Linked DNA regions of Homo sapiens: region 1 is linked to region 2. A link means that fine-mapping ties the variant in region 2 to the expression of a gene that starts in the linked region. Tissue or cell type: whole blood. Region 2 holds a variant in brackets; the other region holds the start of a gene. All regions are shown on one strand. Distances are from middle to middle.

Region 1 (5,155 bases), 170 kb before region 2:
TAAAATAAATCCTTCCTTAGAGAAACCAAGAAAAGTTTGAAAAACCAGTGTGACAAAACTATAAATATTTCAAGTGACACATTTACATTTCAGAAAAATTACACTGAAATATAATTAATCCCAATAAAAGAAAGCAAAAGGTCACCATATTTCTTTGTTATAGTTAACTTCAAACATTTATTCACAAAAGGGAGTGAATACTAACAGCAAATCACAAAGTAGATCCCAAAATTGTCTTCTCTATAAATGACAGGTACTGAAGTCCTACTCACCACCACAGACATAAACTTACCCCTGGATTTCCATAATATCATCAGCATGTAATTAAATATACTTGCCAATTCAAGACATGGTAATCAATTTATATTACATAGTCCTAGTAAGGAAGAATTCTTTATACTTAACTCCACCAGTAAGGTGCAATGAATGGAAAGACACATTGATAGTTCTTTCTGATAAGGGCAATGAATGATGAATGGAGCACAGGCTTTTAGAGTCCTACAAGCTGACAATTTTCAATCTATCTGTAGGTGAAAGAGACAACATGGGACAGAGCTCCTATAGCTCTTGGTTTCCTGTTCTCACTCTAGTTCTTCCTGGTTGTAGCCTCGTGGTTGCAAAACTCACCCAACAACTCCCACTACAGAACTGAAGCCATGGCATGTAATGACTACAGGAGGAGATCAATTTACAGAAATATCTTAATGTAAAGTTCACGTGCCTGATTGAAGAGGTAAAGCCAACATGTGGTCATTCAAGAAAAGAGAACTCAAAGGACTACACAAGTAGTTCCTTTGTCCAGTTATTGATAAGGGTACAAGAAGCAGTTATCTCTTTCAGAAAACAGGCAATCAGTTTGAAGAACAAAGATTTCCAAAGGACATGATAGCTTATAATTACTTCTCCACTACTCACTCAGTATATCAAACTATAATTTTCTTGATTCTGGACACATGGCCAGAAAAAGTGAAAACAATGGTTATTTCAATGGGAAATCCACCTCAAAGAAGAAAAGTAAAACTGGGGTGAAAACTAACATATTAAGAAATCCATAAACAAGTACACAACTCTTTATCTCAAAAGAGATAAAGAATTCTGTCAAAACACTTCTCCCATCACAATTAAAAACTTGCAAGCATCTCTCTTTTTAAAAAAGCATGATCAATCATAGGAATTTATCCCCAATGGTTTGAACATGAAAGCAGGAAATACAACTATAGATCTACTATAAACAACCCGCTTTCAGAACTTTTCCAATTCATAACACCCCTCTTTGTGAGACTGGTTGAGTTGGCAAGGCCAATTAACAGAAGGTGCCAGCTGTTTTTGTCGTTTCAGATTCTGACATTTTTAGCCCTCTTATTGAAAAACATAAAGTGTTATATCACTTAGCATGAAATCTTTGCCTGCAAAGAAAGTGAATATTTATAAACTCTAAGACTAGAGAGGCTCTTAAAGGATACCTAGTTTCCCCCAAGGTTGCAACTGTCACACCTGCTCCAAATCTTAAACCTGGGAACTCTGCTTACCTCCTTCACTTAGAACTTTTATAATACATCTAAGTTCAAAGATGACAACTCGAATGCTTTCTTGTGACAACATAAGACATTTGAATTTATTTATCTACTACCTAGTTAGCTGGAACACAATTGGGTTACTGCTAATTCTGAAAGTGTAAAAAAATATTTTTTTGTTTAGGTTTCCAGTGTGCATTTAAAGATACACAACCTCTGAGAGAGAAATTACGTCAAGGTTAACCTAAAATCAAGAGCAGGCAACATGCCTTACGGTGCATTGTAACATCTTGCAAAAGTAAACAGAGCCATATGCTCTTGGTCACATGCCACCAGTACAGAAGTCAAAGGAATATATAGTGTGTTTAAGGCGAGCATATTTATATTTCAAGAGAGGAACATCTATTTCACCCTGCACCACTTCTCTCAGCAAGCCAGTGTGAGCCAGAAAGGGTAGGGCGGAATCAGAAAGAGAGCTGGATCTAAGGCAGGGACAGTGGAGTGGATGGGATAGAGGGCACCAGAATCCAGCCTCCCTCTTGCTCCACCCTACCTAGAGCTAGTGAGGAAGCGCCAGGCTTATATTGCAAGATGAGCCAGGAAACCCAAAAGCAGCTATGAAGAACCAGGAACGTGGGGCGAGGGGAGGAGTCGGCGAACTCTCCGACATGTCCTCAAGACAGAAGGCCAAGCTTGAGGCCTGCGGCCACCCACCCACCCTACAGCCACCAGCCTTGACCCAAGGAGTCCGGAGCCTCCCAGGTGCGGGACGCATGCGCACGGTGACACTGCGCACGCCCCGAGGCCGCAGCCCACCCTCCACAGACACTGAGCCGCAAACTGCGCCAGGCCCCGCGTCGCCTCTCGCCGGATCAGGGCCTCGGAGCTCCGCAGCCACGGCTGCCGCTCCCCAGGCCCTGGTCGTGGGCATCACCTGGGTCCAGACCTTTGGGCTCACACCTCCCGTTGACGTGCAAGCGCCGCAGTCCCTGAGTCGTTTCTTTAGATCAGGGCGCCGCCGGCGTCCACCGAACTTGCTTCAGTTTAAGCTCAGCGCCTTCCTGGTTCTAGCGCCAGGCAGCTTCAGCCGAGATATCGAGTGCATCGATGGACGCTGCCAGGCGCTGGGAATGCCGAGGGAGTAGATTGTAACGCGGCCGATTTTTTGTTTGGCGTTTGTTTTGCGTGCCTGTTTATTTTGATTTTATTGTTACCAAAAGCAATAAAGGTGGGACTGGAGAGTGTTATTGTCTTAGTAGTCGTCGTTATCGTCATGGGTAATCAGTAAACAAATCTGCATCGTAGGAAGTTTTGTTTATGACACCTACCCGAAACAAAATTGGTTATCTCACGCTGGGGGAGGGGGAAACTCGCCCAACGATAATAAATCATGGGAGTGTGTCTGTATAGAGTCGTGTGTGATTAAATTGTAATGATTTATTTGCAAAAATGCATTAAAAGTCGGTGTTTCTTCTGCCCTGAAGGTGAAGGCACTCACAAGTTGAGTGCAAATTAGTTTCTCAGATTAAAGTAACTGGTTAGTAGAGGAATAGGAGAGAGCTGCCTGAGGCGAGGCGGGGAGCGGTTTCTTCTGAAAGAGAACTCAAATTTATAGGTGTGTGGAGTTTTTTTATTTAAACCAATAGAAATTAAAGAGACTCAGCATTTTCTGTAATTCATACTACATTACTTATTTTTCCTTACATGGAAATTTTTTCCTCATTTACTCTTAAGCAAAGCTAAAAAGATAAATAAATTGTTGGCCTGGGTTTTGGTCGACTATGAGAATCAACTCATTCACCACTGCTAGATAACCAAGCTACAGTTTTCCGCAGACATTTGAGATGGTGAAAAATCACCTCCACAATATATTTTTCGTAAATAATGTACCTTAACTAGCCAGTTTTGAGGCACCGTTTTAAAACTTAACTACTACAACACTACGTGTATATTTTAAATAATTCAAGAGCTGGGGAAACCCTTGGGGTCCTGAATTTTATTGGAACCTGTGCATCTGTCCACAGACTGTCAGCTGAGCTTTACCATAAATGCTTTTTTTTTTTTTTAAACAAAAACTGTATTTTGAAATGCCCTGTTTCTGGAAGATATTTGCTGTTTAATGAAACAACATCATTGGAACTTTGTGAGCATTTATTAATGTATGAATTTAAAACCTTGAAATATTTTTTAAAGTAACTTCCCTTAGGCCAGTGGAAATCTGTGGTCAGACACTAAAGATTTCTCATGGCTCCATCTGTTATCAACACTACTATTCCTAAATATGCAATGAGCCAAAAAGCTGAGATCATGGGAAAATTTATTGGTTTGAATTACACAATAGTTGTGTCTGTGACTTCCCTGATTACCTTCAAAGTGGTCATCTTTCCCTCAAGCTCAGTAGATGAAATATGACTTCAAACCTAAAAGTCATGTACTTAAAAAGGCAAACAAGTAGCTGGTGGGTCTCCTGATTCCTTAACCGACTTCTAACAGTGGTTATTTTTGAGTTATTTGTGAATATGTATTTAACACCTCAGTTTGAGAGCACCTTGAGCACCGTATCCTCTTAGCTCTCCCTATTACTGGCCCTTCTGCTAAATAATCTTAAAAACAGATTTTCATAAAGGACTAAAGTTGTATGATTATTTTCCTCTGATAATATCAGAAAGTAGTTACAAAGAGTAACCCAAGACTCAATGTGAAATTGTTTCTAAATTCGTATAACTTTGAAACTTTGTCCCTTTTGTGGTGTAACAAAACAAAAGCAAGTACTGATAACAATGTATTCATACCTAAAAGCTATAGCTGCGGAAAAATTATAGACATTAGCTCTCCTAAAAGTGGCAAAAAATGAAATGTTTTAAAAAGGGAAAACAACGTTTCTAAAAAGCATGATATACATAATCCTTAAACTCACCAAACATGAACATTTTAATGTGAGTATTGTAGTATAACATAAGGTTATATCCAGCTTCTATCTACATCTATTTGAGAAACACTAATATATTAAGTTATAATTGTGTTCTCTTTTTGCAAGTGTTTCAGGTTGTTTTGACGGAACTTCTTAAATTATCTGCTAATTTGTTTTGATGCCTTAACCAATATACGGAAGATATACATATTAATGTTCTGTAATTCCTCTTATTTTTACTAAGAGTATTAGATCCAAAATAATGATCAAGTTACCTTTAACTTCCAGAAAGTCTGCATTAATATTCAGAGTACTTGAAAATGTCCCCTAAGCCACACTTAGAGGTATATTTGTTTACACACTTAAATATAACATCATATGTAAATATTCTTTTGTGAGTATGTATTTGCATAGCCACACTTCTCACAGCAAGCCCTGTCCGGCACAATACAGACAAATGACTCAGGAATATAGATGTTCCTCTAACGTAACAAACCGTTCCGATGAAAATAGCCCAGAAATAGAATTTTAAATCGTAAGCGGGGTGGTGGGGGGGGTAGGCAGAGAGACCTTTACTCCTGGCGAGCGTCTCTTTTTTAGCTCTCCGTAATAAATGAAATTAGAGGGGGTACAAACTTAACGTCGATTTTTTTTTCAGACTCGAAGAGGGATAATCTCTTGTTTTTCAAATTAGTAAATAAACTCGGATGTTTCCCAAGATGCTAAAGAA
Region 2 (5,155 bases):
TCCAGAATGGAAAAATACTTTTTCTCTTCTCAGAATTGTAGTTCATCTGGCTTCAAACCAAAGCAACTTGGTGAGTAAGAGGAAGAGCTTGTCTTGGCTAGTCCATATAAGCTTTGACCACACTGACTTGCAGGCTGTCACTCAAACCAGTGGCTGCCAAAGGAGGTCACAGATTCATCCAAATGGCTTTTAATAATTTGGCGTTACTTTCATGTGAATAATTTATAATCCCCAAAGTATGAGACTGTTATTTATGGTTAGTAGCTGTGAAATAATGAGGCACATGGTTTTAAGGCTGTTTTTATTACCAAGTGGTGTCTGTACAGTTGTAGGGACTTAAAGGGAAGTGGAAGTGGATTTTTTTTCTTTTTAAAGATTATATCAGAGGCAGAAATGATATATCACAGATGAGAATAATACTGGCTGTCTCTTCAAATTTATCCATTACAAACACCACACCATTTCTTTGAAATGGGAGCTTAGAGCAGCATTCTGGCAGTTTCTTGAAGTCGGTCGTTTTCACTCGCTGAGGAAATAAAAAACGGACTTGTTTGGTCTTCGAGTTTTGGTTCCTACTGGGAATAAGACAATTAAGTATCGCTTTTTATTTTCATTTTGGGTTTTAAAGAATAAAAACTATGTTGTCTGTGTAAAAACTTGGGAAAAGTAGATGTGTATAAATAAAAAAATTACCTGTTATCTCACCAATACATTTTAACAAAAATAGGATCATAATGTGTAGTTATTTTATCCTGTTACTTTTGGTCATTTTGCACATTATTAAATAGGTTTTGAAAATGTTATTTTTAATGATTGCAAAATATTCCACTGTATAGATGTTATAGAATTTCTTATTATTTAATAATTTAGATTTTTCCAATTTTTTATTGTTATGAGTAACTCTGTGATGATAATTCTTTAACAGAAATCTTTACCTACATTTCTGATTATTTTCTCTTGATAGATTTCCAGGAGGGCAGTTATTGGGCCAAATAGTAAGAATATTTTAAATCTCTTGATACATATCACCAAAATACATTCCAGAGAGTTTATAACAATTTAGAAGCCTACCAACAGAGAGAATGGTCATGAGCTTTGAAAAATTTAGCCAAGTTGATGGATTTAAAAAAGATGCACCATTATATTAACTTGCAGTTTCTGATTACTAGTAAGCAATTTCAATGTTTATTAGCCATTTTATTTATTTTTTGAAAAGTGGCTGTTAGTGCCGTTTGCCTGTTTTATTGTTTTGTGCAATTAGCGCTTTCCTTCCTATTTGTAAGAGCTTTTTATATATTAAAAGATATCCACTTCATTTTGCACTTTAAATCTATTCATTTTGTAATTGAAGAGAACCATGTAAGTTCTATATCTATCTCATTACACAATGATGCGTGGATGCCAAATCTCAAGTAATGAAAATGTGGTTTATAAAATTTTATAATTAGCTATTTACGCTCAACAACTTTAGTTTATTTTAATTGATAAATATTTATTTGTTTTTACTATTAGTCATAGTTATATATACATATGTAACTATGTATAACTGTGTGTATATATGTATTTACAGCAAATATATGTAATTGAGATGTATATCTGTCTATCTCATAACTGTTACCTATTACAGACAAATAAAAAATCATCTCCCTATAACCACAAATTTTCCTACCAATAACTGGAGATTTGGTTCAACATCTGCCTGTAAGGAAACAAAGATGTTTAAGATGGCTTTCACTTCTCAGGCATTCACAATCTGGTGGGAGAGCTGGAGGTGTGCACAATTAGCTTTCACGTGCAGCAGAATTTGATAAGTACAGCAACAGAATCATAAAGAGAATGAAACAGGCTTATCTAGGAAGGAGAGATTAAACCTGACTAAGGCAGTCCCTTTTTGAACAAAGAGTTTTGAAGTATTTCTTACCTAATAGATAATTTATAGCCTGGTTTTGACTCTTTTAAGCCTGGCCTTGCCCTCACTATACATGTAGGTCTTTGACAGGAAGAAATGAGACCAACAGCAGGAGTGAGGATTGGGGACTGAGGGAAGAGTGGAAGAGGAAGGATGTTCTAGGTAGAGGGACAGCTGGAATGTGGAGGGATGGCTTAGGAAATTGCAGATATGGCAGTGCATGTGGAGTGAAGGTGGAGAGACTGGAGTGGGGATTAGTAAACTGGTGAGGCAGGTAAGGACCAAATGGCAGGCATCTCTGAACGCCAAACTGACAAGAATTCATGTTGCAAGCAATGGGAAGTCTTTGAGTGTTTCTGAACAGGTGAATGTCATGATCCAGGCTGTTTGAGACAACTTTGCTGTTGCAGGTATGAAGATTGAAAGGGAGGACCAAAGAGGAAATAGACAACCCAGCAGGGAGGTGAATAGTAAGTGGGGTAACTAGCAGAGAGTCAGTGGAAAGGAGAGAATGGATCTGACAGTTTGGAGGCAGACTTGCTAGGATTTGACGCCTAATTGGATATGGTGAGGAGGAAGGGAAAGAGAGGGAGAAAGAGGAGTCCAAGATAAAATTGAGGTTGGGAGCCTGAGCAGTTCAGGCAGTCCAGCTTAGATTCCCATCCTGGGGAGTGAGTTTTCTTTAGTATGGCTCAAGAGGTATAACATCATGTGGCGGGCTGGGATTAAGGATTCTGGTTTTGTTATCAGAAGAAGAACCCCTCCTCCTTCACCTCTGGCAGGGGCATTACAGCACATT[C/T]GAGACTCTGGAGAGACTGGCTGGAGCTTTCTCACAATTACCTGTCCAAAACATATAATAAGCTGTCAGACACTGGACAGGTGCCTCAGCCCTTTACAGCCTCAGCATCCTCATCTGAATTTATTTCCTTGTGCAGTTTTAAGAACTAAGTGAAATAATGAATGCAAATGCTTTGCAGTGTGGCTGGGAAATAGTAAGTGCTCAGTAAATGCTAGCTCTTTTGTTCATAGTGGTAAGCATTTTGGTGCTACTTTTGAGAAATAACAATAGCAATATCCCCATGTTAAGTTCAAGCACTTAACATACAATAACAATGAAATGAAATCAGAGGGCTGCAAATTCATAAAATAAAGAATATCTGATCTAGAAGTAAGGGATAGAACCCTAAGCTATACTGTGTTCATTAAAAGGAAGTAATTTAAAAAAGACTACATTTGATGGTTTTTGTTCATGAAGGGAAGGCTTCTGATCATCTAAAATGTCTTTCTGTATTAAATTAAACTAACCAACAGTGATTATAACTACGTGATCATGATCTCAAACAGCAATTCAGTAAATGTATATAGCACCTGGTCTGTGGGAAAGTGATTGATCTGATAAAAAGTCTGTATTTACACCCTAAGCCTCCATGAAACAAGGTCCAGAAAGACGAAAGGCAAAAGATGTGAAAGTTTTTATGAAGGCAATAATGGCCACTTGACTATAATTTCAAGGCTTGCCTCTTTCATATCAATATTCAATTTTGATGAATTTTTATTTTCTTATTTTTTAACATTTCCACTAAACTTTATTTTTTAACATCTGACTCTTTTGGAAAAGCAGGAAATAAAAAACAAATTTGTTTGATTTCTTGGCAATTTATTTTGCATTCAAAGCTGTCAAAGTTTTTTCACATTTGAGAAATGGTCCTTGTTTCTACCATCATATTTAAAGTATTTGTGGATTTGATCATCAAAAAATAAGACATGAATGGATAATAACACATTGAACAAAACAAAAATTCATCAGTCTATACTAATAATAAATAAATAAATGAGGGAGTGGGAGGAGAAAGCTCTTTCTTACAGCAGAACTCAAACTAATAAATGTAGACAAAATGAAGATTGATGAAGTTAAAAAAAACCCACCATTTTGTAAGCACCAGGAAAGGATCATTAATAGATGCTAAAAGTGTGGGTAAAAATTTGATAAGGAAGAGTTTCAAAATTTCAAAGGATAGTTTCAAAATATCTCCCCAAATTATTCATCAATTACTTAAAGAAAAATGATAATATTACACTGAAACACCTGGCAAGATGCCACCTTCACCAAATGATCAAAGTGAGCATCACCATTCATGGGATAAACCAACATTATGAGCCTCCTGATATGATCTCATGGGAAGGACACAGTATCATTTTTATGCCATTCCTGCTAAGAACATGCATAACCTGAATTTAATCTACTTACTATAAAACATCAGACAAATCCAAGTTGAGGGGTATCCTACAACATAACTGGCCTGTTATTTTGTAAAACTGTAAAGATCAGGGAAAGACAAAGAAAGGCCGAGTAACCGATTTGGATTAAATGAGACAAAAGATACATGACAACTAAATGCAATGTGTGATCCTGGTTTGGATCCTGAACAAAAGGGGAAAATTACTATAAAAGACATTTTTCAGACAATTGGTGAAACTGGAATATGGCATGACGACAATAGTATTGTATCAGTGTTCAATTTTCCAATTTTGAAAATTTTACTGTGGTTATGTATGATAACATTCTTGTTTGTGTAAAATACACACTGAAATTTTAACAAGTAAAGAACAATTATGTATACAACTTACTCTCAAATGATTTAGAAAGAATATGTGTATATATCTTTATGTACGTATGTGTATACACACACACACACACACACACACACACACAGTGAAGCAGGGAGAAGGAAATGCAGCCTACTCAAATTAACAGCCCATTTATCAGAAGAGAGTGATTTATCACTCTTAAAAGGAAAATATTATGTAAGAAACAAGAAGAATGTGAAGAAAGATTGTAATTATCTTTTCTCTGATTCTTATTGGCTGAGTGTACTTGTGTGAAAATGTAGGCATAGGTAGGCACTCACCTTGCCATTGGTTTTGGGACTATCTTCGGCTAAATGATTGGATAGCTGTTTAAGGGGTGACAATTTTTCCCTTTCTGGAAAATCAGAATGTAACTTCTTTTCACATAAGTGTTTCTTGAACACTTGGCTTTGGACAGGTGTTACACGTGTGGTTTTATAGTTTGTTATTAAAACTATAAAATTAGACTTCCAAATTTGAAGTCCTCAATCTTTTTTTGGTGGGGCAGTGGGAGGAATCTCACTTAGCTTGCCTTATTTTAATTGTTTATTGATCATTCAACTAGTTATACTCCTCAGTAGAAGGAAGCTGTCAAAAAACTTTGGTCTCATTTTTTTT

The links. PIP is the estimated chance that this variant, and not a neighbour inherited with it, causes the effect.
Region 1: RSRC1 starts here. The variant in region 2 is fine-mapped to the expression of RSRC1 in whole blood (GTEx, PIP above 0.99).

The regions. Positions count from the first base shown.
Region 1 is chr3:158,107,517-158,112,671 of GRCh38, reverse strand. It overlaps RSRC1 (arginine and serine rich coiled-coil 1), which reads right to left and starts at 2,583. Exons shown (of 10, transcript NM_001271838.2): 1 at 2,449-2,583. RefSeq lists enhancers at 2,010-2,059, 1,921-2,420, 2,270-2,619, 2,421-2,922.
Region 2 is chr3:157,933,556-157,938,710 of GRCh38, reverse strand. No RefSeq gene overlaps it. Among named protein-coding and RNA genes, the nearest start is that of SHOX2, 170 kb to the left of the region's middle. The variant C/T (reference allele first, on the strand shown) is at 2,709.